4 linked regions of the Homo sapiens genome follow. The protein of the gene in region 3 interacts with the protein of the main gene of each other region in a pairwise test. Each region holds a gene or a part of one and is shown on either strand. Other genes may lie near its edges.

What was found.
Region 1: the proteins of EFHC2 (region 3) and MTCL2 interact in binary tests that used the Homo sapiens proteins (3 or more experiments, as listed by UniProt).
Region 2: the proteins of EFHC2 (region 3) and EGLN3 interact in binary tests that used the Homo sapiens proteins (3 or more experiments, as listed by UniProt).
Region 4: the proteins of EFHC2 (region 3) and EDC3 interact in binary tests that used the Homo sapiens proteins (3 or more experiments, as listed by UniProt).

What each region holds. Positions count from the first base shown.
Region 1 is NC_000020.11:36,811,530-36,818,560, reverse strand, and holds part of MTCL2 (microtubule cross-linking factor 2), read left to right. Parts: intron 1-1,091; coding exon 1,092-1,154; intron 1,155-2,253; coding exon 2,254-3,435; intron 3,436-5,716; coding exon 5,717-5,857; intron 5,858-7,031. UniProt on the Homo sapiens protein: Microtubule-associated factor that enables integration of the centrosomal and Golgi-associated microtubules on the Golgi membrane, supporting directional migration. Preferentially acts on the perinuclear microtubules accumulated around the Golgi.
Region 2 is NC_000014.9:33,948,064-33,956,041, reverse strand, and holds the start of EGLN3 (prolyl hydroxylase EGLN3), read left to right. Parts: upstream 1-4,967; 5' UTR 4,968-5,289; coding exon 5,290-5,646; intron 5,647-7,978. UniProt on the Homo sapiens protein: Prolyl hydroxylase that mediates hydroxylation of proline residues in target proteins, such as PKM, TELO2, ATF4 and HIF1A. Target proteins are preferentially recognized via a LXXLAP motif.
Region 3 is NC_000023.11:44,147,346-44,151,677, forward strand, and holds the end of EFHC2 (EF-hand domain-containing family member C2), read right to left. Parts: intron 1,552-4,332; coding exon 1,450-1,551; 3' UTR 527-1,449; downstream 1-526. UniProt on the Homo sapiens protein: Microtubule inner protein (MIP) part of the dynein-decorated doublet microtubules (DMTs) in cilia axoneme, which is required for motile cilia beating.
Region 4 is NC_000015.10:74,630,034-74,637,031, forward strand, and holds the end of EDC3 (enhancer of mRNA-decapping protein 3), read right to left. Parts: intron 5,594-6,998; coding exon 5,376-5,593; intron 2,914-5,375; coding exon 2,579-2,913; 3' UTR 525-2,578; downstream 1-524. UniProt on the Homo sapiens protein: Binds single-stranded RNA. Involved in the process of mRNA degradation and in the positive regulation of mRNA decapping. May play a role in spermiogenesis and oogenesis.

The sequences.
Region 1 (7,031 bases), on a different chromosome or scaffold from region 3:
CCCAAAGTACTGGGATTACAGGCATGAGCCACTATGCCAGACCAGCTTCTGGATTTTTGAATCACTGTTTGCCATCAGTCTCTTATGACCATTTCTAAGCCTCATGTGTAATTACGATTTGTTATATTCATTTTATTGTTGTTGTTTGTTCTTTGAGACAGGGTCTTGCTATGTTGGCCAGGCTGGTCTCAAACTCTTGGCCTCAGGCAATCCTCCTGTCTTGGCCTCCCAAAGTGTTGGGATTACAGGCATGAACTACCACATCCAGCCTCCATATTCATTTTATCCATTAGTATTCATTCTGAATTACAGTTCCCACTAGATGTCAGTTTCATGAAGACAGGATTTTCTCTGAGATGGAGATTTGCATGCAGAGGTTTATGGAAGAGTCTCCTTGGGAACAACACCACAGGGAGTGAGGCAGAGCTGGAAGCTGAATTACACCAGTGATCTCAGGCGATCCCATGGGGAGCTCTGGAGCTAGGATGGCCCTCCCTGTAGAGCTGAGGCAAGGGGTCATGGACCCATCCCTGGATGTGGGCTCCATCCACGGATAGCACCTGCCCTTGGACAAGGTGGTTCTCCTCAACCAATGGCTGTCGCTGGGAGAGGTACTCAGCTTTGAGGTCTCAGCTCTGGGAATGAGTGTCTCAGTTCCGAAGGGGAATCTGGGCAAAGCACCACAACATCCTCCCTGGTTCACTGCTGTGTTCTCTACACCTACCTACCTGGCGCTTGATAGGTGCTCAGGAAATCCTTTGATGAAAGACAAATGAGAACAGAAACACAGCTTTCCAAGTCTTCGCCGAGGCCAACTGGGTCACACATGGGAGCAGGCTGGAGGGGAGGAGCCCTGAGCAGGTGTTTTTAGAATCATCTTCTCCAATGCTTCTGGCCTATCTCCCATTGCTGCTCACTGGGTGATCTGGAGGGCTCCTCTTACTCAACAGTCAGTGCCATCAGGGTGGGGTGGCCTGGGGACTGGGGCCCTCCCTGGACCCTGGGCACTGTGACAGCTCTCTGCATGTGCATCATTCTGTGAGCTTTCAGTCCTGACTTTTTTTTTTTTTTTTAATTAAATCTCACTTCAGCATTCCTTGAAGAAAAGAGGAACCCGCTCCCTGGGGAAGGCCGATAAGAAGACTTTGGTGCAGGTAATTCCCAGCAGCCCCCGTAGGAAGGTTTTATTCTGAAGACCTGAGCCTGACTCTAAGTGGCCTGGGGATCCCAGATTCTGCCCTGTCCTCCCCTTGCTCATTTTCCTTTTTTTCTTTTCTTTTTTTTTTTTTTTTTTGAGACGGAGTCACACTCTCTTGCCCAGGCTGCAGTGCAGTGGCACAATCTCAGCTCACTGCAACCTCTACCTCCCAGGTTCAAGCAATTTTCATGCCTCAGCCTCCCGAGTAGCTGGGACTACAGGCGTGCACCACCACACCTGGCTAATTTTTGTATTTTTAGTAGAGACAGGGTTTCACCGTGTTGACCAGGCTGGTCTTGAACTCCTGGCCTCAAGCAATCCACCTGCCTCGGCCTCCCAAAGTTCTGGGATTACAGGTGTGAGCCACTGCGCCCGGCCCCCTTGCTCATTTTCTTAGTTTCACTGCCCACTTTATTTCCCAAAACCACATCCTGAGCCCATGGTTCTTAGATGCTTAGATGCTCGCTCCCCACCCCAGCCAGGAACTTAGCAAGCAGCACTACAGTCAAATCCAAAGGTCTAGAGTTGGAGACCCAGGCTTGAATCTTGGCTCTGCCACTTGACTGCCATGTGATTGGAGCGAGTCATTTTGAGTTTCTGGGCTCCATTTCCTATCTATCCCTGTCTTGGGGGTTCATTGGAAGAATTGGATGAAGTACTATATGCAGCAAAGGCCACATACCGTTAGCTCCTAGTGGTATGGGATTGTCAGAGTGCCAGGCCCTTTTCATCCTTAGCTCATTTAATCCCGTCTGTGGCTCTGGGAGGGAGGTAATGTTACCGCCCCATTTTACTGATGAAACTGTAGTGGCAGCAGTTGCTCATCAGTATGTCACCTGTTCCTGTACTCCCAGGCTATGTGTGGCGCCCCATCCTTGCTGTCATTTCAACATCTACCCCTCTGCGTCTCCCCCGGACCCTTAGCTCCTTGAGGGTCTGGCTGTGTCTGATTCATCCCTGTGTTCCCAGCACATAGTGCTCCCCAAAATGCCATGGCTGGTACTGAGACTCCCAGCACTAACCTTCCTGGGTTGTGTCTGTCTCTGTGGTCCCAGGAGGACAGTGCAGACCTGAAGTGCCAGTTGCACTTTGCAAAGGAGGAGTCAGCCCTCATGTGCAAGAAGCTCACTAAGCTTGCCAAGGAGAATGACAGCATGAAGGAGGAGCTGCTGAAGTACCGCTCGCTCTATGGGGACCTGGACAGCGCGCTGTCAGCCGAGGAGCTGGCCGATGCCCCCCACTCGCGGGAGACCGAGCTGAAGGTGCACCTGAAGCTGGTGGAGGAGGAAGCCAACCTGCTGAGCCGCCGCATCGTGGAGCTGGAGGTGGAGAACCGAGGCCTGCGGGCTGAGATGGACGACATGAAGGATCATGGAGGTGGCTGTGGGGGTCCTGAGGCACGCCTGGCCTTCTCCGCGCTGGGTGGCGGAGAGTGCGGGGAGAGCTTGGCAGAGCTGCGGCGACACCTGCAGTTTGTCGAAGAGGAGGCCGAGCTGCTGCGGCGCTCCTCTGCCGAGCTCGAGGACCAGAACAAGCTGCTGCTGAACGAGCTGGCCAAGTTCCGCTCGGAGCACGAGCTGGACGTGGCGCTGTCGGAGGACAGTTGTTCTGTGCTCAGCGAACCTTCACAGGAGGAGCTGGCGGCCGCCAAGCTGCAGATCGGCGAGCTCAGCGGCAAGGTCAAGAAGCTGCAGTACGAGAACCGCGTGCTCCTCTCCAACCTCCAGCGCTGTGACCTCGCCTCCTGCCAGAGTACGCGGCCCATGCTGGAGACGGACGCCGAGGCCGGGGACTCTGCCCAGTGTGTGCCTGCTCCCCTGGGCGAGACACACGAGTCCCATGCGGTCCGACTCTGCAGAGCCAGGGAGGCCGAGGTGCTGCCTGGGCTGAGAGAGCAGGCCGCCCTGGTCAGTAAGGCCATCGATGTCCTGGTGGCTGATGCCAATGGCTTCACGGCTGGCCTCCGGCTGTGTCTGGACAACGAGTGTGCTGACTTCCGGCTGCATGAGGCCCCCGACAACAGCGAGGGCCCCAGGGACACCAAGCTCATCCATGCCATCCTGGTGCGCCTGAGCGTGCTGCAGCAGGAGCTGAATGCCTTCACGCGGAAGGCAGATGCAGTCCTCGGGTGCTCTGTCAAGGAACAGCAGGAGTCCTTCTCATCACTGCCCCCCTTGGGCTCCCAGGGGCTCTCTAAGGAGATTCTTCTGGCAAAAGACCTTGGCTCAGACTTTCAGGTAAGGTGCCTCATGCACAGATCCTATTATTTATTTTTTTCCTTTGTTTTGTTTTGTTTTTCTTGAGATAGGGTCTCTCCCCGCTGGCCAGGCTGAAGTGCAGTGGTGCAATCTCAGTTCACTGCAGCCTCGATATCCTGGGCTCTAGCCATTCTCCCCCCCTCACTCTCCTGAGTACCTGGGACTACAAGTGAGCACCACCACACCCAGCTAATTTTTATTTATTTTTTATTTTTTTTGAGACGGAGTCTCGCTCTGTCACCCAGGCTGGAATGCAGTGGCGCAATCTCGGCTCACTGTAACCTCCAACTCCCAGGTTCAAGCGATTCTCCTCTCTTAGCCTCCCAAGTAGCCAGGATTACAGGCGCCCTCCATCATGCCTGGCTAATTTTTGTATTTTTAGTAGAGATGGGGTTTCACCATGTTGGCCAGGCTGGTCTCGAACTCCTGACTTCAAGTGATCCGACCGCCTTTGTCTCCCAAAGTTCTGGGATTACAGGTGTGAGCCACTGTGCCTGGCCATAATTTTTAAATTTTTTTGTAGAGATGGAATCTTGCCATATTGCCCAGGCTGGTCTTGAACTCCTGAGCTTAAGTGATCCACCAGCCTCAGCCTCCCAAAGTGCTAGGACTATAGGTGTGAGCCACTGTGTGTGGCCTAATAGTCACATTTTAAATGTTCAGTATTTGTGTGTGTCTAGTAGAGTGGATCTAGAATATTTCATCCTTGCAGCTTGTCCTTCTAAATCCTTCTCTACACATCTATCATATATTTGTTTTTCCACCCAGATTGCTTTATATCTATTGTTACTACACAACTTATATTTTTAACGCAATGTATCAGTTTGTTAATTTATGATGCCTTGTCTGTTGTTCACACAGTTTTTGTGCTCACTGCTGAAGATGTCATGATTAGCAAAAACAGATATGATTCCCCCTCTCATGGTCCTTATCATCTAGTGGGGCAGAGTCACCCAAAATATCATGTCAGTGAATGTGCAATTAGACACTGAGAGAGGAATCTGAAGGAAGCGTACATGGTTTTATGAACAAGGAACTTGACCTAGACCCTATGCTGAGGGAAGGCCTCTGATCTGACCAGAGGTCAGAGGGATGGATGGCTGGGGGAACACAGTGTTTTCAGCAGAGCAAATAGCCTGTGCAAAGACACAGCTCAGATCAGAGGCGGAAGGAGCGTGGTGTGTCCAGGACACTGAGTGAAGAGACAATGTGAAGCTGGACTGCACTGAGCATGCGGGAGGTTTGATCTTCATCCTCAGAGCAATGGCAGGGAATTTTTCATTTCCAGGGAAAGAGAGCGATTTAGCACTTTCTTTTTTTCTTTTATCTTTTTTTTTTTTTTTTTTTTTTTTGAGACAGAGTCTTACTCTGTCGCCCAGGCTGGAGTGCGGTGGCACGATCTCAGCTCACTGCAACCTCCGCCTCCTGTCTCCGCCTTCCGGGTAGCTGAAATTACAATTCTCCTGTCTCCGTCTCCTGGGTAGCTGGAATTAGAGGCATGCCCCACCACACCTGGCTAATTTTTGTATTTTTAATAGAGATGGGGTTTCACGATGTTGGCCAGGCTGGTCTTGAACTCCTGACCTCAGGTGATCCACCTGCCTCGGCCTCCCAAAGTGTTGGGATTGCAGGTGTGAGCCATCGTGCCCTTCTGAGATTTAGCACTTTCTTTTTAACAACTATACAGTGGATATGTGCCATAATTTCTTTAACTCAAGACCTGTTGATCCGGTTTCATCTTGCTTTTTTAAGCAAGCACATTGCCTTTTTTTTTTTTTTTTTTTTTTTTTTAAAGAAACAGTCTTGCTCTGTTGCCCACGCTGGAGGGCAATGGTATGATCACAGCTCGCTGTAGCCTCAAATTGTAGATGGAATTACAGGCACATGCCACTGTGCCCATAGACTGCTCTATGTTATCTCCCTTTTGGTTCTTCTTGAAAGAGGGATGAACAGAGGTCACACATGTGATAGGACAGTTTGGGCTGACTCAAAAGGTTTGTGCACAAGGCACACATTCAGAAAATCACTTCGCACTTACCTACTCATTCATCCTTTCAGCAAACATTCATTAAACGGCAGCAGTGCCCCCAGCTGGGGCTGGGTCTGGGTTGCAGAGGTGAATCTACCAGGGTCCCAGCCCTCAGGTGGGTGGTTCAAGCCTCTTAGGGAGCGCAGAGGCCTGGGGTGGGTGTTTCTGGCACCCCTCGGGCCCCTCCCCATGGTGATCTTTGGTTTGTTCTGCCTGTGCCTCTGGGTGCAGCCACCTGACTTCAGGGACCTGCCGGAATGGGAGCCCAGGATCCGAGAGGCTTTCCGCACTGGTGACTTGGACTCTAAGCCCGACCCCAGCCGGAGCTTCAGGCCTTACCGAGCTGAAGACAATGATTCCTATGCCTCTGAGGTGGGTCTAGGCCTGAGCAAGCATGGGATTGGGTAGGAGGAGAGTGACTGAGCCCTGTCAAAAGCAGAGTGGTCCATATATCACTTAGCTGGTGAGGATATGGGTTTGGGGCATTCCATTTGGTTCCAGGCTTCTTGGCAGCCAAGGCCAGAAGGGAAATAAGGAAGTTTGGGACATTCTCATGGCCTGATCCAAGGAAACTTATAAACTCATCTGCATAAATTATTTTTTCTTCTGTACTAAATTCCACTGGGAATTTAACAATTTATGTAATTTAATGGAACTACTCATGTATGTAGCAGGAAGGCAGCAGTCTCTATAGCCAGGCAGTTTGGGTTTCAATTGTGGATCCACTCTATTCTGGCTGTGAGATCTTGGATAAGTCATTTTACCTCTCTGATTCTCAGTTTTCTCACATGTAAAATGAAGGTGCCTCACAGGGTTGTTGAAAGGATTAAATACATGAAAAGCCATAGCTTAAGGCATGGTCCACATTGGGTGAGGATGAGGAGGAGGAGGAGGATGATTATGATGATAATGACACATCTCTGGGACTCAGGGGACCTGAGTTCAAGTCTCAGTTCTACCAGTGTTCCTGTGTGACCTTGGACAGATTTCTACCTTCTGGCCACAGCTTCCCCATCTGTAACGGGAGGGTTAGAGTGAATGGTAGTTATTGAATTGCTAGGATTCTTTGATCCTCAGGGAATTCTGGGTAGTTCTGAGCCCCTTCTAAGCCTGCTGAGCTTCTCCTTGCTCTTCATAATGAGCCTGAAGCAGGAAAAGGCTCCTACGGACTGGGTGGAGTATCCCTGAAACCCTGAACCTTGCAGAGTCCTATGTATTTTCCAGCCTGAGCACCTTTCTGAGCATCTCTTGGAAGACAACTCTGTAGTCCCAGGAAGGTCAGCCCATGACTATGTGGGAAGGAGAAGCTCACTTGAAGCTGATGGATCAGACTCTCTAAGTGAGCTTCCTGGAAGCCATGGCAAAAAGAGAAAAAACTGAGATAACTTAGTTGTCATTTTCTAAGAAAAGGAAATAGGCCTATTCTTTTTTTTGTTTTTTTTTTTTTAGACTGAGTCTCGCTCTGTTGCCCAGTCTGGAGTGCAGTAGTGCGATCTTGGCTCACTGTAACCTCCATTTCCTGAGTTCAAGCGAATCTCGAGCCTCA
Region 2 (7,978 bases), on a different chromosome or scaffold from region 3:
TGGATCAATAAATAAGGTTGCCTTTGCTCACAGTGAAGTCATGCAAAATAATGATAAACCTTCTGATGATATAGGATGGTAAAAACACACACACAAAATATTCAGATACCAGCTAGGAGGAAGAGAACCTCAGGTATGGCAGTACTTTGATGGAAAAGAAGACATGTAGACATTTTTCATCAGAAATAAAAAAGGACACGATGGAACCTTCCCATATTTCTGTTGGAAATGTAAAATGGTACACCTATTGTGGAAAACAGTTTGGTGGTTTTCCAAAAAGTTAAACATAGGCCGGGCGCAGTAGCTCATGCCTGTAATCCCAGCACTTTGAGAGGCCAAGGCGGGTGGATCACTTGAGGTCAGGAGTTTGAGACCAGTCTAGCCAACGTGGTGAAACCCCATCTCTACTAAAAATACAAAAATTAGGTGGGCATGGTGGCGGGCACCTGTAATCCCAGCTACTTGGGAGGCTGAGGCAGAAGAATCGCTTGAACGCAGGAGGCGGAGGTTGCGGTGAGCCGAGATGGTGCCATTGCACTCTAGCCTGGGTGACAAGAGCGAAACTCTGTCTCAAAACAAACAAACAAACAAACAAACAATTGGCTGGGTGTGGTGGTAGGTGCCTGTAATCCCAGTTACTTGGGAGGCTGAGGCAGGAGAATCGCTTGAATCCGGGAGGTCGAGGTTGCAGCGAGCCGAGATTGCGCCATTGCACTGTAGCCTAGGCGACAAGGGCAAAACTCCATCTCAAAAAAAAAAAAAAAAAAAAAGAAAGAGTTATAAAATTACCATATGCCCCCAAAACTGTATGCCTAGGTCTATTCTCCAAAGAATTGAAAACAGGTACTCAACATACTTATGCATGCATGTTAATAACAGCACTATTATAATAGCCAAAAAGTGGAAACAACCCAAATACTCATCAGTGGATGACTGGATAAACAAATTGTGGTATATCTACGTAGTGGAATTATCATTCAGCCATAAAAAGAAATAAAATCTTGGTAAATGGTACAAAACATCATGCTAAGTGAAAGAAGCCAGTCACAAAAGGTCACAGGTTATATGATTCCATTATTAGGAAATATCTAGAATGGGCAAATCCATAGAGAAGGCAGATTGATGGTTGCTAGGGGCTTGGGAGAGGAGGCAATGGGGAATAACTGCTTAATAGGCACAGTTTTCTTTTGGGGTGGTGAAAATGTTTTGGAACTAGAGAGAGGTGGTGGTTTCATAACATCGCGAATGTAGTAAATGCCACTGAATTGTTCATTATAAAATCGTAAATTTTATGTTTTGTGAATTTTACCTCGTTAAAGTCAAAATGCATACATATATAAATAGGACAGTGTTACAGTTGAGAAGGCAGAAGCATCCCATGCTTCCTCTTCCACTCAACTGAGACTCTTTGGTTTCGTCATCTGTAGGAAAATGAAGTTGAACTAGGTGACCACTAATATCTCTTCCAGTTCAAATTCAAAGGTAAGAAAACTCAACATTTTTCTTTCTCCCCTACTCCTCCACATGCTTGAAAATGACTGCATCTATACTGCAGATGCACACTGGAAGACAATGTTGCTGTAATTAAATTACAGGGAAATTAATTTGCTTTAGTTATTATGGAAAGGTATTTTAATATTCATTATTATGACACAAATTAGTGGACAAATAACTAAAGCAAATGCACTTTAACAATTAGCTTGGGTTTTCCCTCTCTGATGCTCAGACCCACAGCCTGTGCCTGGCTCCAGCCTGTCTGTGTTCCTCCGTGCAATCACACACTCTGATTTTTGCCAGTCACAGTATCTCTGATTCCTCTGCCAAATGCAGTGCTGGCAGCCCTAAGCTGATCGGGAGGTCCTTGATTGATTAATGAGTGCCCTTGCCAAGCAGGGATGGTGCCAAGGGATTGAATTCCTTTCTAAACTGCCCATGCTTTACAACCAACATAATCTAGAACAGTTGTCACTAGGACTCACTTAGACTATTGCTCTAGTTATAACGAGTTACAATTTTACTGTGAAATTATTGAAATATTATTTGAACAGTAAACTAAATTTACCCACTCCTGGGATTTGAAGTCTTGGGTCAACATGTTCATTCTGGAAGGTGGTTGTATAATTTTCTGTATTTTACTGACCACCACCCCTCTACCAGTGATTGCAGGTTTCCATTCCTTTGTAAATTCCCTCCTTATCGTTCCTAGGAATAAGGTGTATCTACAAAAAGCCTCCAGCTAGAAACATTTCAGCTAGTTACTAAGGATTATCTGTCACCTTCCCCCTTTTTGATTCTGTCCCTCTTCAGGGATATCTACTTCTGAGATTTACACAGTCCCCAAAGCTGCAAAATGCACGACCCAATGCCAACCAGGGTCTACATTCAGGCTGTCTTAGACCAGGTTTCTCCTGGTCACCCCATTATCCATAGTGCCCCTGGAGGAGATCACTGCAGGAGGCAAAGCAGTTCCTTCTGTGCAGGGTTCAAGCAGAAGTAGAGAGGAGGGCTTTCCTCCTTTTTGGTACTGCACTCCATTTCACTCCTTGCTGCAATTTTTTTTTTTTAAGGCTAAATTTCACTTTTGTCACCCAGGCAAGAGTGCAGTGGCATAATCTCAGCTCACTGCAACCTCCACCTGCTGGGTTCAAGTGATTCTCTTGCCTCAGCCTCCCGAGTAGCTGGGATTACAGATGCCTGCCACCATGTGTGGCTAATTTTTGTATTTTTAGTTGAGGCGGGGTTTCACCACGTTGGCCAGGCTGGTCTCAAACTCCTGACCTCAGGTGATCTGCCCACCTCGGCCTCCCAAAGTGCTGGGATTACAGGTGTGAGCCACTGTGCCTGGCCCTTTGCTGCAATTTAACAGTCCTCCAGTTTTCACTTTATGTCTCTGGCTCCCACCACTCAAATGTCCACTGCTCAGATAGACAAAGCTGAGAGACAAATGCCCTGTAGAACTCCTAAGTTCTCCCTCCACTGGCCTCTAAGCTTTTGTGCTGGGTCAGGCTAATTTGCTTGACTCTTTTCCAGTGACTTCTCTTTGGGGAGGCTCCCCAGCCCCTTTTGCAAATAGATCCTTCCAGATAAGCCCAGACATACTGAATCCCAAGTGGAGGCTGCTATGGCTCAGGGTCAGACATTGAGTTCCCAGTAACTATTTATTAGCCATTCACTATGTGCTAAACACTGGGGTTCCAAGGATGATGGTCTCCTCTCATCATGGAGCTGCCTTGGGAATTTAGACAAGAGCTCTTTGAGCAGTGATGGCCTTTACCCCAAGGAGGGGTACCTCCTGCTCAAAGGTAATACCAAAGGTGCCAACTAATCACTGACTTGGCAGAGAACCTCTCTCAATATAACTAGAAGTTTCATCAAAGTTTCTTAAGCACTCCACCATTGACTGCTCTCCTTCACCATCCCCCAGGTTCTTACTCAACCACGTGCCTCTGTCTGCTTCTTTCCAACTTGTAGCAGCACCTTTCCTCTTCTATTCTTTGTTCTTGTCCTGGATGTCATTCCCTTTCTCCCCTCAGAGGCAGAGAGGAGAGGGCTGCTGGAGGAAGAAGAAAAGTGAAAAAGCTGTAGAAATTTGCTTCCACAATAAACAATACCCGAAAAACCTGTACATTCTTTTCTTCAACTTAAATGAAGAACCCAAGTGTGCACTCATATGAAGTAAAAAAGGTGCAAATAGGCCGGGCACGGTGGCTCACGCCTGTAATCCGAGCACTTTGGGAGGGCGAGGCGGGCGGATCACCTGAGGTCGGGAGTTCGAGACCAGTCTGACCAATGTGGAGAAACCTCACCTCTACTAAAAATACAAAATTAGCCAGGCATGGTGGCGGGCGCCTGTAATCCCAGCTACTTGGGAGCCTGAGGCAGGAGAATTGCTTGAACCTGGGATGCGGAGGTTGTGGTGAGCAGAGATCACACCACTGCACTCCAGCCCAGGCAACAAGAGCAAAACTCCGTCTCAGAATAAATAAATAAAAAAAATACAGTTCCTTTTTTTTTTTTTTTAAAGAAGTACAAATAGCTTTGCATGCAATTTATGAATTTTTTCCTGATTCTGATCGCTGGTGTTCAGTAGGAAAGGGAATCAAAACTCCATAAAGCAAATCAGCTTATCTGTAGATAACCAAAGTCTTCTCAGTGGTGTCTGTCCCTCTTGTGAAAGTACAGCTGCTTGTGGGAAAAGTGAGAGACCTAGAATACAGTGTATCTTTTGGGGGACATACCTCTGACTGTTACAGAAGCATGTGATTAATTTGGAAGGTAGAATTTCGGAACATCATATTTTAATAGGAAGCTTGAAAGGTAAGTAGAGGAAAACATCAAGCAAAGCAAAATACACCATTTGCAGAGTTCAATCAGATATGACTCAGCATTTCTTCATTGTGCTCATCCCCAGCTCCTCAAGCACATAGTGCCTTGCACACAGTAGGGGCTGAGGGAAATATTCGTTAATGCATTAATTTTAGTTAAAACTAGATACCTCCTAATCTCTCAGTGGCTTGAACTGGGTCAAACAGCAGAGGAATGGGGTAAATAAGGAAAGACACCCGGTAAAGGTAGAACAAGACCACTGCTTAATAAATATATTCGTTTTTGGGGTTATTATTTTGCTCAAAAGTCTATGAGGTGACCAACCCAGAATGTGGCAGTTAATTCTATTTACATTTTCAGTGTGGGATCCAGGTTTTCAAGTTTGTTATGTGATTTTATGCAAAACAATATGCAAATCCAGCGCATTCTAAAAATTCAGTCTGCTTTCCAGCCGCTCCCCTGGTCACAAACAACTAAGGTTGGCGCCGGGCTCTCTGGGATCCTTCGCGGAGGGGCAGAGCAGGCGGGGGTGACTGGCAGCGGGGCGGGGGAAAGGGCGGTCCCGGAGGCGGTCCCGGGGCGGAGCCCGTGACGCGCGGAGTCGGCCGGCTTAAGGGCCGGACCTCAGCGTCTCCCGGAGTCTGGCCGCAGTCGCGGCAGTGGTGGCTTCCCATCCCCAAAAGGCGCCCTCCGACTCCTTGCGCCGCACTGCTCGCCGGGCCAGTCCGGAAACGGGTCGTGGAGCTCCGCACCACTCCCGCTGGTTCCCGAAGGCAGATCCCTTCTCCCGAGAGTTGCGAGAAACTTTCCCTTGTCCCCGACGCTGCAGCGGCTCGGGTACCGTGGCAGCCGCAGGTTTCTGAACCCCGGGCCACGCTCCCCGCGCCTCGGCTTCGCGCTCGTGTAGATCGTTCCCTCTCTGGTTGCACGCTGGGGATCCCGGACCTCGATTCTGCGGGCGAGATGCCCCTGGGACACATCATGAGGCTGGACCTGGAGAAAATTGCCCTGGAGTACATCGTGCCCTGTCTGCACGAGGTGGGCTTCTGCTACCTGGACAACTTCCTGGGCGAGGTGGTGGGCGACTGCGTCCTGGAGCGCGTCAAGCAGCTGCACTGCACCGGGGCCCTGCGGGACGGCCAGCTGGCGGGGCCGCGCGCCGGCGTCTCCAAGCGACACCTGCGGGGCGACCAGATCACGTGGATCGGGGGCAACGAGGAGGGCTGCGAGGCCATCAGCTTCCTCCTGTCCCTCATCGACAGGCTGGTCCTCTACTGCGGGAGCCGGCTGGGCAAATACTACGTCAAGGAGAGGTCTAAGGTAGGACGCGCTCGGCGCCCTGCCGCAGCTGCTCCCGCGGGGACGGGAGGCACTCGGAGTCCGTTGTATGTCGACTTCCCAGGGCCGTAAGCGAACTTTGTTTTTTAACCAAGAAGTCAGCCTGGTTTGTCTCTACTCGCTGCTTCCCCCCACCCCTCGCCCCAGCTCCTCTGAGCGAAAGTCAACGTTAAGGGGCTCAGGTGAACCATGATGATGACCTTCTGTTGACTTTGAAATATTGGCTCTTGTGGGTGACAAAAGCCAGACAAGCTGTGGCTGTGGTCCGATTTTAAGACGAGGTTCTCAAAGATCCAAAGGAGGGAAAGGGTATTGGAAACACTGTGTATCATCTGAGACACACGTGTCCTCATGATCTTAAATGCCTACTTTAAAGCCACCTAATACTGCCCTTCATTGTGGTCAGAAGAGATTTCTACAAAAGCACTCAGAATTCTGGAGGCAGTTGTGATTTTGCCATGTGGCAGTTGGTTTGTGGAGTTGGGCAGGTGTGAAAGGGTAAAACTCCACTTCTGAATGCTGCTTCTGCCCCCTGGGACCCAGCACATTGTTAGACCATCTTCTTGACTGAAAATTCTCTCCTGATGCTGAGCCCTGCACCACCACCTTCCTTTTCCTAACTATGAATTGATGGCAAAGTCCACTCAAAACAACCAGTTAAGTGCTCACGAGAGAGTAGTCAAGCACCTCCAGAAAGAAACCGGGTTTTTGTTCACATAGCAGGAAGTGACTCCCTGGGTGGTAATTTATCTTGGAAACACAGGTAGATTGGCAGAAAAACGGGAACATGTAGGTACCGCGATGTTGGTGCATGTCCATTACTTTGGGATAGGCTTTCTCAGTCTTTCCTCAAATGATAGTTGAGCCAGTTTTCCAGTGGCAATTCTGAGTGACTTGCGCTTGTCTTATGGTGTGGTCAAGGGACGTTCAGAACTACGGAAAACTTTTACTGAAACAGCGAAGCAGAGTATACCGGCATGAGAGGGAAGATGAACACTCACCTATGTACCACTCTTTGACAATAAATATAGTATTTCTCAAATCAGTCTCAAGACTGATCCTGTCTCAGAACAGACCATTGTTCTCTCATTTCTCTAATACGCTGAGAGGAACACTCTGAATAAAGGCTAAGTGGTGAGGATTGGAAACGTGTGGGAGTGAAGGGGTGGAGGTGGATGAGTGCAGTGGGGAGTCACAGTTTGCCGTACAACTTCCAAGCCAAGAGGCCATGAATAGAATATCTGAAAGCATCGTTATTAATGCACCCAAGTAAAGTAAATCTTAGAAGATACTGCTTTCTAAATTTTACTTTGGGGAAAAAAATTCCGCGTGAGCTGAACTCTGTAGGAGATTGATGCTAAAGTGTTTCTTTATTCTTCTTCCATCATGTTGGTGGTGGATTAGTCACTCGTCTTTGACTAGTTTGATTTTTGCATTAAATGACCTTGCTGTCTTCTGTGGTGGAGGTGTGTCGGGGAGGGGAAGGGTCAGCCTCAGTGTTGCTGAGATGCTGGTAGTTTCTACCTGGAAGAGCAGACGGCTTCTTATTGGGTTTTTAAATGTTTCTTGTAAATTTAGGTGTTAGGAGTTTTTCTTCATCATTCTAGGAGCAGAATTTGCTCTGAGGGAGGTCAGGATTAATTGGTATGGAAAGAGGCCACTAACATTGAAAGTTAAATATTTTTATTTAGCTTTGACTTAATGGATAGGGATAGGGTTTCAGACTAGAATTTAACTCAAATGGAAGGAAAAACACTGTGTAAGTTAGGGTAAGGGAAAGAAAGATCCTGTAGATATGATTCATCAATTTTAGGTTATCTTTTGGGTGGAATGAAAAACTTTCCAGGTGACCCTGTCAGAAGGTGATCGTGAATTGAAAATAAAATTTATCCTGTCCCACCCCCAGATTTCCAGGTTTACTTTGGCTGGTTTGTCACAAAGCTCCCTGCCCTTTAGATAAATCACCTTTCGATTGGAATATTCCCTGGCCAATTAGAACCAAATGCAAACCAGGCTTGAGCAAACAACTAGTGTAGTTAAATTTTTTTTAAGTGTGCTTTGCTTGTATACAGAAGTCTCCTTAGTGATGTCTTGTGGTCTTGGGTTTCTTGTTTGAAGTTCATTATTAAAGTCATGGTAGAAACACTTTCCATTTCTACATGATTTTTATTGGTTTCACATTAATTTATCCTTCTTTTTCTTCACTCACTTTTTATCCCTCAGCTGAGCTCCTCATTTTGTGCTGCTTTCCAGAGCAGTGATAGAGACCCAGTTTACCGGTTCATCCTTCACCCGTGTTTTCAAGAAAAACTAA
Region 3 (4,332 bases):
ATGAAAAATCTTAAAGTGACAAAATGGCTTGGCACTGTCAGTTGCCTTAAAAAAAACCTGGGACAAAAATCAAGTAGTCAAATTTAGGATTTATGGTAGATAGTTTTAGTATATAAATTGAGTATACTAGTTTAGTGTTAAGTCCTGAAAGGGTTGGGAGGAGCGTCTATTCTAACAATAGCACATGTGGAATTATCCTAGGCTTACATATAGAAATCGTTTATTGATTAACTCCAATTTTTTAAAAATGAAAGGGCCATTGTTGTGGAGAATAAATTGGTACATTTGAGTGCCAAGAAGCCAGCAAGACACTGCTGCAAATGTGGAGTGAAAGAATAATGAGTCCGAAGGGTCCCTTGAGATGTCATCAGCTCTTCTTTTTCTCAGGGTAGTCCCTGAAAGGTAAATGGTGCAGCTCCTTTTTGAGACCTCCATTGTCTCCCAGAACACCAGGCAAATGGATTTATGATACATAGCATCCAACACTGAACAATGGCATAGACTGGGATAGACTTCTTACACTGAATTCCCAGAGGTACATGGCTATGGGTTTTAATCAAATGTACACTACATGACAAGAGTTCTGCTGAAGAAAAATAAAAATAGAACTAGAAAAATGCAGGGGAAAAATGTTGTAGTTTCTGAATATTTAAACCTCTAGGGTGGGGCGCGTGGGATGTGTGTGTAAAACAAACCAAAAAAAAAACAAAAATCTCAAAATCTTCAGCTTTCACATTTGTAAATATTTTAGACATAATAAAGTTTTGGTCAAACTATAATTATACACACATGCATATATTCCTAAGCTAACAAGCTGACTTTAGATAGAAAAAAGGGCATTACAAATATAAATACTGCATATGTTTCCAGTGTGTGTGCACGTGCGTGTGTGTGTGTGTGTGTGTGTGTGTTGGAGGTTCTTTTTCTTCCCATAGCTTTACTAAGTTCAAAAGATAAATATATTTACTCTAGAGAGGTTTAAGAATTATTTTGATGAGGTGGGTTGCTACAAAACTTAATTATGTAAGTAATAAACGTGTCAAAAAGGTTTCAAAAATGTTTAATAGAATCACAACTTATTGCTGTGATATAATTTGATTTTGTATTGTCATGTATAACCTTCAAAAGTCATTTTCTGTTCATATAGTAATGAATCAAATTATGTTGGATCAAAAATTATCAGAAGATTTTTTGGTATTAATAAACCATACATATAATAAAAATATTCAACATGTTTTAAGATGGCATTTTAAATAGTAACAGTACGTCGGCAATGTAACATGATGTTCTGTAAAACTAACATGACAAAATAGGATTAATTGTGGTTTATGGATTTCCATTTAATATAAACCTTGTTTCTTTTTTGTTTTTAATGAAATTATATCTACTAAAGTAAATGTGGCAAAATGAGAGAAGTAAATCATAGAGAATTGACCAAAACTGGCATGGTTATTCCTCCTCTAAGCCAAACGCGTCCTTCAAAAAGGTCCAGTAGTCAATGTATTTCGCAGGAATAGGTGATGGCATACCAAGCCAAACATCTTCACATCTCTAGAAAAAAACCAAAAATGGATATGATTAGAACCACATTTCAAAGTACAGTTTTGAAAATTCAACACCAGTTTATTTGCAAAGTGAAAATTTCTACCATCTACTTTAGGTTCATAAGGACTTTGTGGTCTACTGGATACTTGTTCTTGATTCTTCATTCCCTCCCTGTATAAGAATTATGTGCCCACACTCTTTGTCATATGACTCTGTAGAACCTCCTGTGGAGTAAGAAGGGTATATTTTCCTGTTCCTTTGATATGGGGTTGGCCACATGACTGGCTTTGACCTATGTACTATTAGCAGACATATCATGGACAGAGGCTCTAGCGTGCTGGCATCATTTGGCTTGGCCTTCTGTGCCTCTGCCATCACCATGAAAAGAACATGGCCCAGGATGCTGCTGTTCTTAGAATGACCAAGGTGGATCAGACCAGGCTGGACTTGCGGACTAAGAGCCAAGCTTAGCTGAATCCAGCCATGCTTCACTGACCTACATGCCCATAGACAAGAAAAAGAAATGTGTCTTGTTGTGAACCATTGAAATTTAAGGAGTTGTTATGCAGCATGAATACGCTGATAGATCCTCCTATACTTTCTTAAGAACCCAATTTTTATTTTTATTTTATTATTTTTTTTAAAGACAGGGTATCACTTTGTTGCCCAGGCTGGAGTACACTGGCACAATCTCTGCTCACTGCAACCTCCAACTCCCGGGTTCAAGTGATTCTCATGCCTCAGCCTCCCGAGTAGCTGGGATTACAGGCACATGCCACCATGCCCGGCTAATTTTTGTATTTCTAGGAGACGGGTTTCGCCATATAGGCCGGACTGGTCTGGTCTCAAACTCCCGGCTTCAAGTTATATGTCCACCTCAGCCTCCCAAAGTGCTGGAATTACAGACGTGAACTGCTGCCTAAAGAACCCAATTTTTAAAATACAAACTGGTATCTATACTGGCTGATTGGTTACTGTTTCTTCAGTAAACAATGAAAAGAACACTGGATCACTCACAGTATGATCTTGCAGATAAGCCACTTTATTTGTGTGTGTGTGTGTACACATATACACACACAGATGCACATTTTATATAATACATAAATACGTGTATATACACACACACAAACTTTTTGCATATGCCTCAATGGTTAATTAATATCAACAGGAGGCAAAGTTCATACATATGGTTGCTTATATTTCTACTTTCAAGGTTAAAATATGACTGTCAAGGTTAATTGTTGTATATAAGAGGTTCTATATCTTTACTAGTGTTACATTAGTATCCAGAATCACAAGGTGTCACAGAAACATAGGTAAAGGCTCAATAATTTGATGTGATGGAATTTTGGAAGCAAGCTGAATAAGTGGTGATTCAGTTGCACCTTATGGGATGAAAAACAGTTCAGCAGAGGGTTTAGGGTTGTGAAGGGTATTCCAGGCATAGGGACCAGCGTAAGCAAAGGCCTGGAGATCTAAAATCTATTTTCAAGAAAGGGTGAGTAGCCCAGTGTGGTTTGCGGCACATGGTGCAAAGTGGCAAGAGAGATGGTTAGAAGGAGAAGCTGGGGCCAAACTTCTGGCCTTCTGTGCTAGTTTATACTTGAGGCTGTGGTTAGGGGAAGTCACTGGTAGGTCTTGGCCAGGGAAATGACAGAAATCTGATTAGAAACTGATTAGCTAACTTGCTGGATGTACAGAGAATGACATGAAGTAAGAAAATCAATCTGGAGGTGAGTACTATAATACCGCAGAAAAATGACTGTGCCATAACCAGGGTGGCTGAAGCGGGCATGGAGGACAGGAGCTACTCTGAGAGATGCTGCTGCAGGAGAACATGAAATAGCTAGAAGGGGATCAACTTGAAATGGTGACAAAAGAAAGGTGTAGTGCTATGGGTTGAGTTGTGTCCTCATGCAAAAGAGTTATGTGAAGTCCTAATCCCTAGTACCTCAGAATGTGACCTTGTTTGGAAATAGGGTTTTTGCAGATGTAATTAGGTAAATTAAGATGAGCAAAATGAGATCATACCGGAGTAGGGTGGGCCCCTAATCCAATATGACTGGCCTCCCTATAAAAAGACAGCCAGGTAAAGACAGAGACACACAGGGGGAACACCAGGTGACCATAGAGGCAGAGATTAGAGGTTTGCAGCTGCAAACCAAGGAACGCCAAAGATTGCCAGAAAACCATCAAAGTCTAGGAAGAGGCAGGGAAGGATTCCCACACAGGTTTCAGAGAAAGTATGGCCCTGCTGACACCTAGATTTTGAACTGCTAGCCTCCAGAACTGTGGAAGAATAAATTTCTATTGTTTTAAGCAACTCAGTCTGTGGTACTTTGTGAGGGCATCACTAGGAAACTAATACAGGTAAGGATGGTTCTAAGAATTCTAAATTCAGTAATAGTTGACAGTGTCTGTTATTAGTTTCCTGGGGCTGCCGTAACAAAGTACCACAAAGTAAGTGGCTTAAAGCAACAGAAACTTATTCTTTCACAGTTCAGAAGGCCAGAAGTCCAAAACCAAGGTGTTGGCAGCGTTGGATCTTTCTGGAGGCTCTAAGGAAGAATTTATTCCATGCCTCTCTCCTGGCTTCTGGTGGTGGCTGGCAGTCATTCCTTGGCTTGTAAGCACATCACTCCAACGTCTGCCTCCAACTTCACATGGTGTTCTCTGTGTATACCAATATGTCTTCACGCAGCTTTCTTATAAAGTCACCAATCAATGCATTTAGGGTCCACTCTAATCCAGCATAACTTCATTTTAATTAATTATATCTGCAAAGAT
Region 4 (6,998 bases), on a different chromosome or scaffold from region 3:
GTGCCCAGCTGCCAGAAAGCACAGATTTGACCCAAGCTATTTATATGTTATAAAGTTATAATAAAGTGTTTCTTACTGTTTGTAACCCCTGGTACCAGTGTGTCCATCTCCAGGCTCCTTGCCTTCCCCTTACCTGACCTTATTAATAAAGTCTTTCTTAGCAGTTCAGCTTGTGGAGAGCTAAGTGTGAACTGGGCCAGGCACAGAAGAGCTAGGCAGGGGTAAGACCAGAATTGGGGACATCCTCTGGGCCCAGGCTGCTGAGCAGTCCTAGATGGCACCTCTGCCCTGCTGGCTTCTGTACCTCTCAGCCCCAGAGAACCTAAGGGAATCAGCCCACCGTGGCTAGCCAGGTGGGGTCTGGTTTTCCACAGCCTGCCAGTCCCATTACTGGCCAGGACTTTAGGCTGTATGTGCCCAACAACTATGGCCTGCTGAGGGCAGGAGACGAGTGGGGCGGGTTCCTAGGCTGGGACAGACAGCACCTCATGACAGCCTACAGAGCAAGTCACACGGCACAGGACTCAGTCAGTCATTCAGCTTTATTTCAGTGCTGGTTTTTGGTTCCCTAAGAGCTGCATGAGTGCTAGGCTTCACCACGTGACTGGGGGCCCCTTGGGAACTGGGTACTATGGGCAGGATGCCCCTGAAAAGAACTGAAGACAGAGGAATCATACTTCTCTTTAATACCTCTGGGGAAGGCCCAGGCTAAGGATGAGGGCAGGGACCAGTCCCAGTGCCCCCTGGGGAGAGAAGAGGGAGAAGCTTGGGCACAAACTCCCAGTGGCCCTGCAAGGCTATCATCCCTGGATCTTGCTGGAGTGGACAGTCTTCTGGGCCAGGGTTGTTCTAGCTTGTTTCTCACTGTACCTAATCAGGGGGCCTAACTGCATTAACAGGCAGCCAGAACCTACCTACCAAAAAGCCTGTAACCTAGACTGCTCCTCAGATTTTGGCCAAGAGAGGGCCCCGGCTTGGGAGCTGCTTGGCCCTGAGAGTGAGCAGAGGCTCAGAGAATACACAGCACAAGGGTTACAGTCCCTGGCCTCTTCCCATCGCTGGAGACAATTTAAGACTGAAGGGAAGATGAGAGGAGGGGCCAGCCCTCTACCCTGGCTCATCTGCTTCTGGCTATGTTCCTACAAGGGAAGTGATAACAGCCTGAAACCCGTGGTACCAGGGCCTACCCTATGTCCACAATCCTTGGTGAGCCCTTCTGTCCACCCATCCACCCGCTCAGCCAGCCTGGGCAGACACAGAGCAGAAGCAGCCTGAAGCCCTGAAGCAGGCTTAAACACAAGTCCTTGACAGGAATCCCTGCCAGGATTCCAGGCATAGATCCTGTTCTACCAGCCTCCAGGGCCTAGAGCTTGGCACCTTAGGATTTGAGCATCAGTGTGTTCCTATGGTTGGAACCCACACCAGCTAGCTCATCCAGAACTAGCCTCATTTTGCCATCTTTGAGACAGGGTGCTGGCCCCAAGCCTACTCATCTAGACTGGACAAATGTAAAAGGTTCAAAGCCCAGATGATGTAAGAGCTGGGGTGGAGCTCAAGCACGGGAGCCCATCTGCCTGCTCTGGGATGACAGCTGCAAAGGACCGTTTCAGGGGAAGGGCAGAGGGGATGAAAGAGTAGGTGGGGCATGTATGTGCGGGCAAAGGGCTGGAGGAGTGGTGGCCTAGGACAGAAGCACCAGGAAGCCTCTTCTGGTTCAGCACCAGGCTCCCCCAGGGATATCCCCATCTGAGGGGTCTGGCCCCAGACTAGGCAAAGGCTCAACCTGCTCAGCTTTGAGGGTGGGGGCGGGCACTGCTGGCAAGATGGGCACTGTGGTTCTACAGTAATATAACCTTATACTACCTGTGCTGAAGACGACAGAACAACATAAAATCCCAATACAGTAACACCATCCTAATGCCGCCCCCTTCCCTACCTCTGAGTGATGGAGGGAAAAGGAGGGAGAGATCCTTGGAAAAATCAGCATAAAACTTGGATCAGCTCAGGAGTAAGGGTCAAAACCCCCCAAATCAACTTGTGGGGCTAGGGGAAGGCCTGGTCTGTCACAGCCCTGGACATGAATGGAGAGTGCAGGTCTGCCCTCTGGTGGACAGCTGCCGTGCAGCTGGTTCTACAGAGGAAGGGCTGTCTGCGTGGGGAAAGCAGGGGAGACACAAAGCCACAAGCTCTGAAATAGAGCAGGTACAGGCCCCCAGACAGGACCTGGCCCACTCTTCAATGTGTGTGCCCAGGCCCAGTGGCTGTAAACCTGAAACACAGTCTTGAGAGCTGCCTACGGCTGTAAACAAAGGCCCACCTGGCCGTGCAGGGGGCTGAGGGTAGAGATGCCTGGAGTTGCTGCACGCTCAGCCTGCCACCCAGCCCGGAACCCAGTGGGAAAGACTTCCCTGGCTAAGAGCAAGTGACAGGTCAGTTTTAAGTAAGTTCTGTTCTCTCACAGAAGAAACAAACCCAAAAGAGAAAAAACTTTAACAAGGTCCATGAAGCTTCATATCCTTAAGGCGTTTGTTATCAGGAGCAGCAGGGGACAGCAGAGTCCTGCCTGCGCAGGAACCCTCTAAGCAGAGTGCAGTGGGATAACAAACTTGCAGCCAAAGGGCGAGTGGTAGTTGATGCCCACCTCCTGGAAGACCTGCTGGGGAATGCCAATGTCGCACAAATAGATACGGCCTGCGTGCTCCCCCAGTGGCAGAGGCAGGCCCAGTGCCAGTGACCATTTGGCATCAATGCCCTGTTCGACTTCATGCACAGGAGGGTCTATGCTGAGTACTGGTGCCCGGTTCTGGTTGGCCCAGGCCACAGCTGCCTTGTACCAGGGTTGATCGCGCAGGAAGACGTTCTCAGGGCAATCCAGGCAGTTGATGACCAGGTCCACAGGGCTAGTGGGCAGATCTGCAGGTGGAAAGAGTGCCATCTGAAAGTCCCTATGAGCAGAGAGCAGCCCAGGCTGGGACTAGGGCCCAGGTCACCCCAAGGGTGTCTTTGTTTTCCAGACACCACTCGAATGCCTCTCCAAAGGCTGGCCTTCTTAAAGCTGGGCCAGGGCACAGGCCCTAGGAGTTGCAAGCTGGCTGGGCTGAGTGCTAGAGACCAAGTGCATGTCAGCCCAGCAGACCACTGCCCTCCTGGAGTTCTCAGGATGAACCATTGTCGTCCTGAGTGTGCAGAGCTTCTCAGGGCACAAAGCCCTCACCTCCTCTGCCTTCTCAGGCATGCCTCTGTATATCCAACTAATGCCCTGGGCACCTTATGACCTCTGGGAAGGCAGAGTCCACTGTCAAGGTGGCCATCACAGGGAAACCCCACTCAGGTCCAGCAAAAACAGGAGCTGACTGCTATCTGCTGACCCAAGAAGGGTGAGCAGGTGAGAGCATGCTTATTCTATTCCAGCTGGCCTACTCATTCTACTCTAGCAAGCCTGTCCCCTCTCGTACTCATTATCTCACAGGAATGGGTCCTCCACTCAGCCCAACCTTAATTAAGAATTAAGAGGGAACCTATTACTATTCTCCCAGGCTCCTCTGCTCTAACCAGGCTTCTGGGACAGTATTAGAAAAGGATGTCTCAACAAGTATGTAGATCCTGTACTGGCCTAAGAAGTTAAACTGAGAATAGCATAAATCAGACCAAACTTAATGGTCGTTGAGACTTGTGTCCTGGAGCAGCTGGGATAGGAAAACTTTTGGGCAGCAAGAGGAAGAACTGCCTGGAAGGGGGCATCATGTTAAAAATTACAAGGGGAACCCACACCAGGCCCCCTTCCCAGCTCTCAGCCTAGAGTATTAGCATTTCTCAGCTAGAGACTCACAACTTCCTTGCTTAGAATGTGCCACCGGGGGGAGTCCCTGTGGGTGATGAGGCTCTCAAGAGTGAGAGTGGCATCCTATCTTCTGTGTGCCCACAGGAGCCTGGCCCGAGACTTAGCAGGTGAAGTTTCTGGTCCAGGCTTTGCCCTTGACTCACTATGTGACCTCTGGTGGAGTCCCTTCTCTGGGCCATATTTGCTCTCTCCAATTCTTCTCCCTGCTGTTCTCATTTAAACCCATTCCAGTCAGACTCTGTCCCTACCACTCCACTTAAGACCACTCATCAAGCTCACCAGGAGCCTCCACAGAGATGCTAAATCCAGTGGTCGATTCTGTCTTCCTTTGACCTTAACCTAGAACGGGGCTTGCTGACACACTGACCACATGCTCCTTTCTTCACTTGGCTTTCAGCTACCATACTCTCCTGGTTTTCTTCCTCCCTCACTGACCATTCCTGTCCCATCTCCTTGGTTAGGCTCTTTACTCCCTGACTTCTAAATAAAGAGCTCAGTTTTCCAACTTCTGTATCTACTCTCTTCCTATGTGACAGCATATCCAGGCTCCTCATGGCTTAAATATTCCCTATGGCTTGTAACTCTAGGCTGAATCCTTTCACTTCAGATTCATATAACTCGTTCCCTATCAACATTTCCACCTGCATATCCAATAGGTGTCTCAAGCTGAGCTTCTGCTGTTCCTCCCCAAACCTTCTCTATCAAGTTTTCCCATCTCAGTGATCGCACCTCAGTTACTGAGGCCAAAAACTTTGGAGCCATTGCCAACTCTTCTCTTTCTCCCACCCCCCATACATCCAGTCTGTGGATTCTATCTCCAAAACTGATTTAGAAACTAACTACCTTCACCACCTCTGGCACTACCACTCTTGTCTTAGCCACCATAATCTCTCTCTCCCATGATCACAACAGCATCTTGACACTTCTCTGTACTCCTCTGTGTAGTCTACTCTCAAACAGCACCCAGAATGATCATCTGGAACCTAAATTTGATTATATCATTTCTCTACTTATTCCTTCAATGACTGCCCATCTCACCAGAGTAAAAGCCCAAATCCTTGTGGTCATCCCCAAGGCCCATCATGACCTGACCCTGAAATGTCCAAGTCTCCTACTCTCCACCCAGTCCTCCAACATGCCTCCTTTCCCTGCTTTGTTTTTATCCACATCACTTACTACAACTACACAAGTATGTTACATGTCTTTTTGTTCCTCCTAACCAGAATATAAGCTCCACAGAAGAATGGATTTAAAAAAATCTGTTGCCATATCCCTAGCATCAGGAAGAGTGCCTGTTCAACGAATATTTGTGGAATGGACCAATGGGTCCCCAGCTCTTCATGTGAGTAGTTGGAGAGGGAGAAGCATAAGGGGATGGGAAGTAGTATATTACTGTTCTAAGACTCCTTAGAGGCGAAGCACCATCCTTACACACGTAGTGCCTTTCCACCTGTCGCCACTGGGTGGCATGACGAGACCATCAAACTGCTAAGGAGGGAGGAGGCCTTCAGCCCAGCCCTGCCTAAGTGCTCACCTTTGAGGCTAGACACTTGTTGGCCTTGGGTCTTGCTGAAGAGCGACAGCTCATTGGTGATAGATTCCAACATCTTGACAAAATTGGGCAGGAAAAGGATGACCTGGACATCATGGTTGGCTAGGTGCCTTCCACAGCTGATACCCTGAGCCCCCTTCACATGAGGTCCACACAGTAGAGCCACTGTAGGCCTCTGGTGAACATTTTTGGGATTCAACCTGGAAAAGAAGGTGAAGAAGCAGTATCAGCTACATACTTGCCAATCCCTTGCACCCTATACCAGACAATTGCCTGTAGCACCTATTGGTCTCAGATCTCTTACCCACTGCTCACCAAGTCCCAGGCTCCAGAGGGGGACAAAATCCACTGCAGGCCAGGTCTATAGGGTGGCACTCCTGTTGTCCCAAACCCCAACCTCACATCATTGCTGGGTCCTCCCACTAAGTGGTTCACCCAGATCTTGCTCCACACAACACTGTTGCCACAACACCGCTTTGCTGACCCATGAACACTTAATAGTTCCTCTGCAGCCTTGTCTGCTCTTCTTCCCCAACGTGTCTGCTTCACTCCAGCAGGGCTGGTCTCATCCTCTCCTGCACTTGTAAGGCTCTTTCCTGCTTATGCTCAAACTACATCCCCTGCCCAGAAAGCCTTTCACTTTCCAAACTCTGAACCGCCTTTTCTTGGAGATCCAGTTCAAGACTTACCTCTGCTGGGATTACTCTGGCTCATGCCTTTACCTCTCCTCAACTCCTAATAAGCTCACAGCAAGTACCATAGCTCTCCATTCTCCTCAGTCAGTTGCCAATGGTTCTCTTTACTGAGCTTAGTAGCTTACTGAAGTTAATGAAAGCAATGCTGCAGGCATTAACAGTATCTATTTCATAGGATGCTGTGCAGATTATCGGATGCCCAGCACTTAGCAGTGCCTAACACAAAGAAGGTAAGGTACTCAGTCAGTGCTGACCATGGCGGAGGCAGCAGGCCAAGGGTTACCTGGCCTCCTAGGCTAGCAGCTGCCTTGGATGAAGTTGTCACTTCCAGTTTTCTGCTATTCAAAGCTGAGACTCCTCTAGACTCAGAGAAGCCACAAATAAGGAGATAAAGAGGATTAGCCCCAGAGCTGTGCCCAACTCATAGGCAGCACAGTTGGCTCACGGGGCAGCAATGTAGGGAGGAGATGGACGGCAAGGCCATAGGTCCCTGCCTAGTGGCAGAGCAATGATAGTCACTTACCGGTTTCCCAAAGGGAGGAAGATGACAAGATGTTGTCAAGCTAAGAGGAGCTTCATAACTGCCCCCATTCCCAAACACATTTTGGAGAATTTAACAATCTACTCTATATTCCAGACACCAAACCATTCGCCTTCCCATTTCTGCATTTAGAGGAAATATGATGAGAATTGCTCCCTTCAGAGGATGCTGCAGAGTTGTGGAATCTGACTCACTTTGTTCTCTAAAAGGGTTCTTCCTCTCAGGGAGAACCTCTCCCACCCCCAATCAAAAGAAGCAGAGCATGGCATTCACACACCCAGCGGCAAGGTGTAGAGTATATGGGCACTGGAAATGGACCTATGTGGATTAGAGGCCTGGCTGGACTGTGTACCAGCAGTATCATGTGGG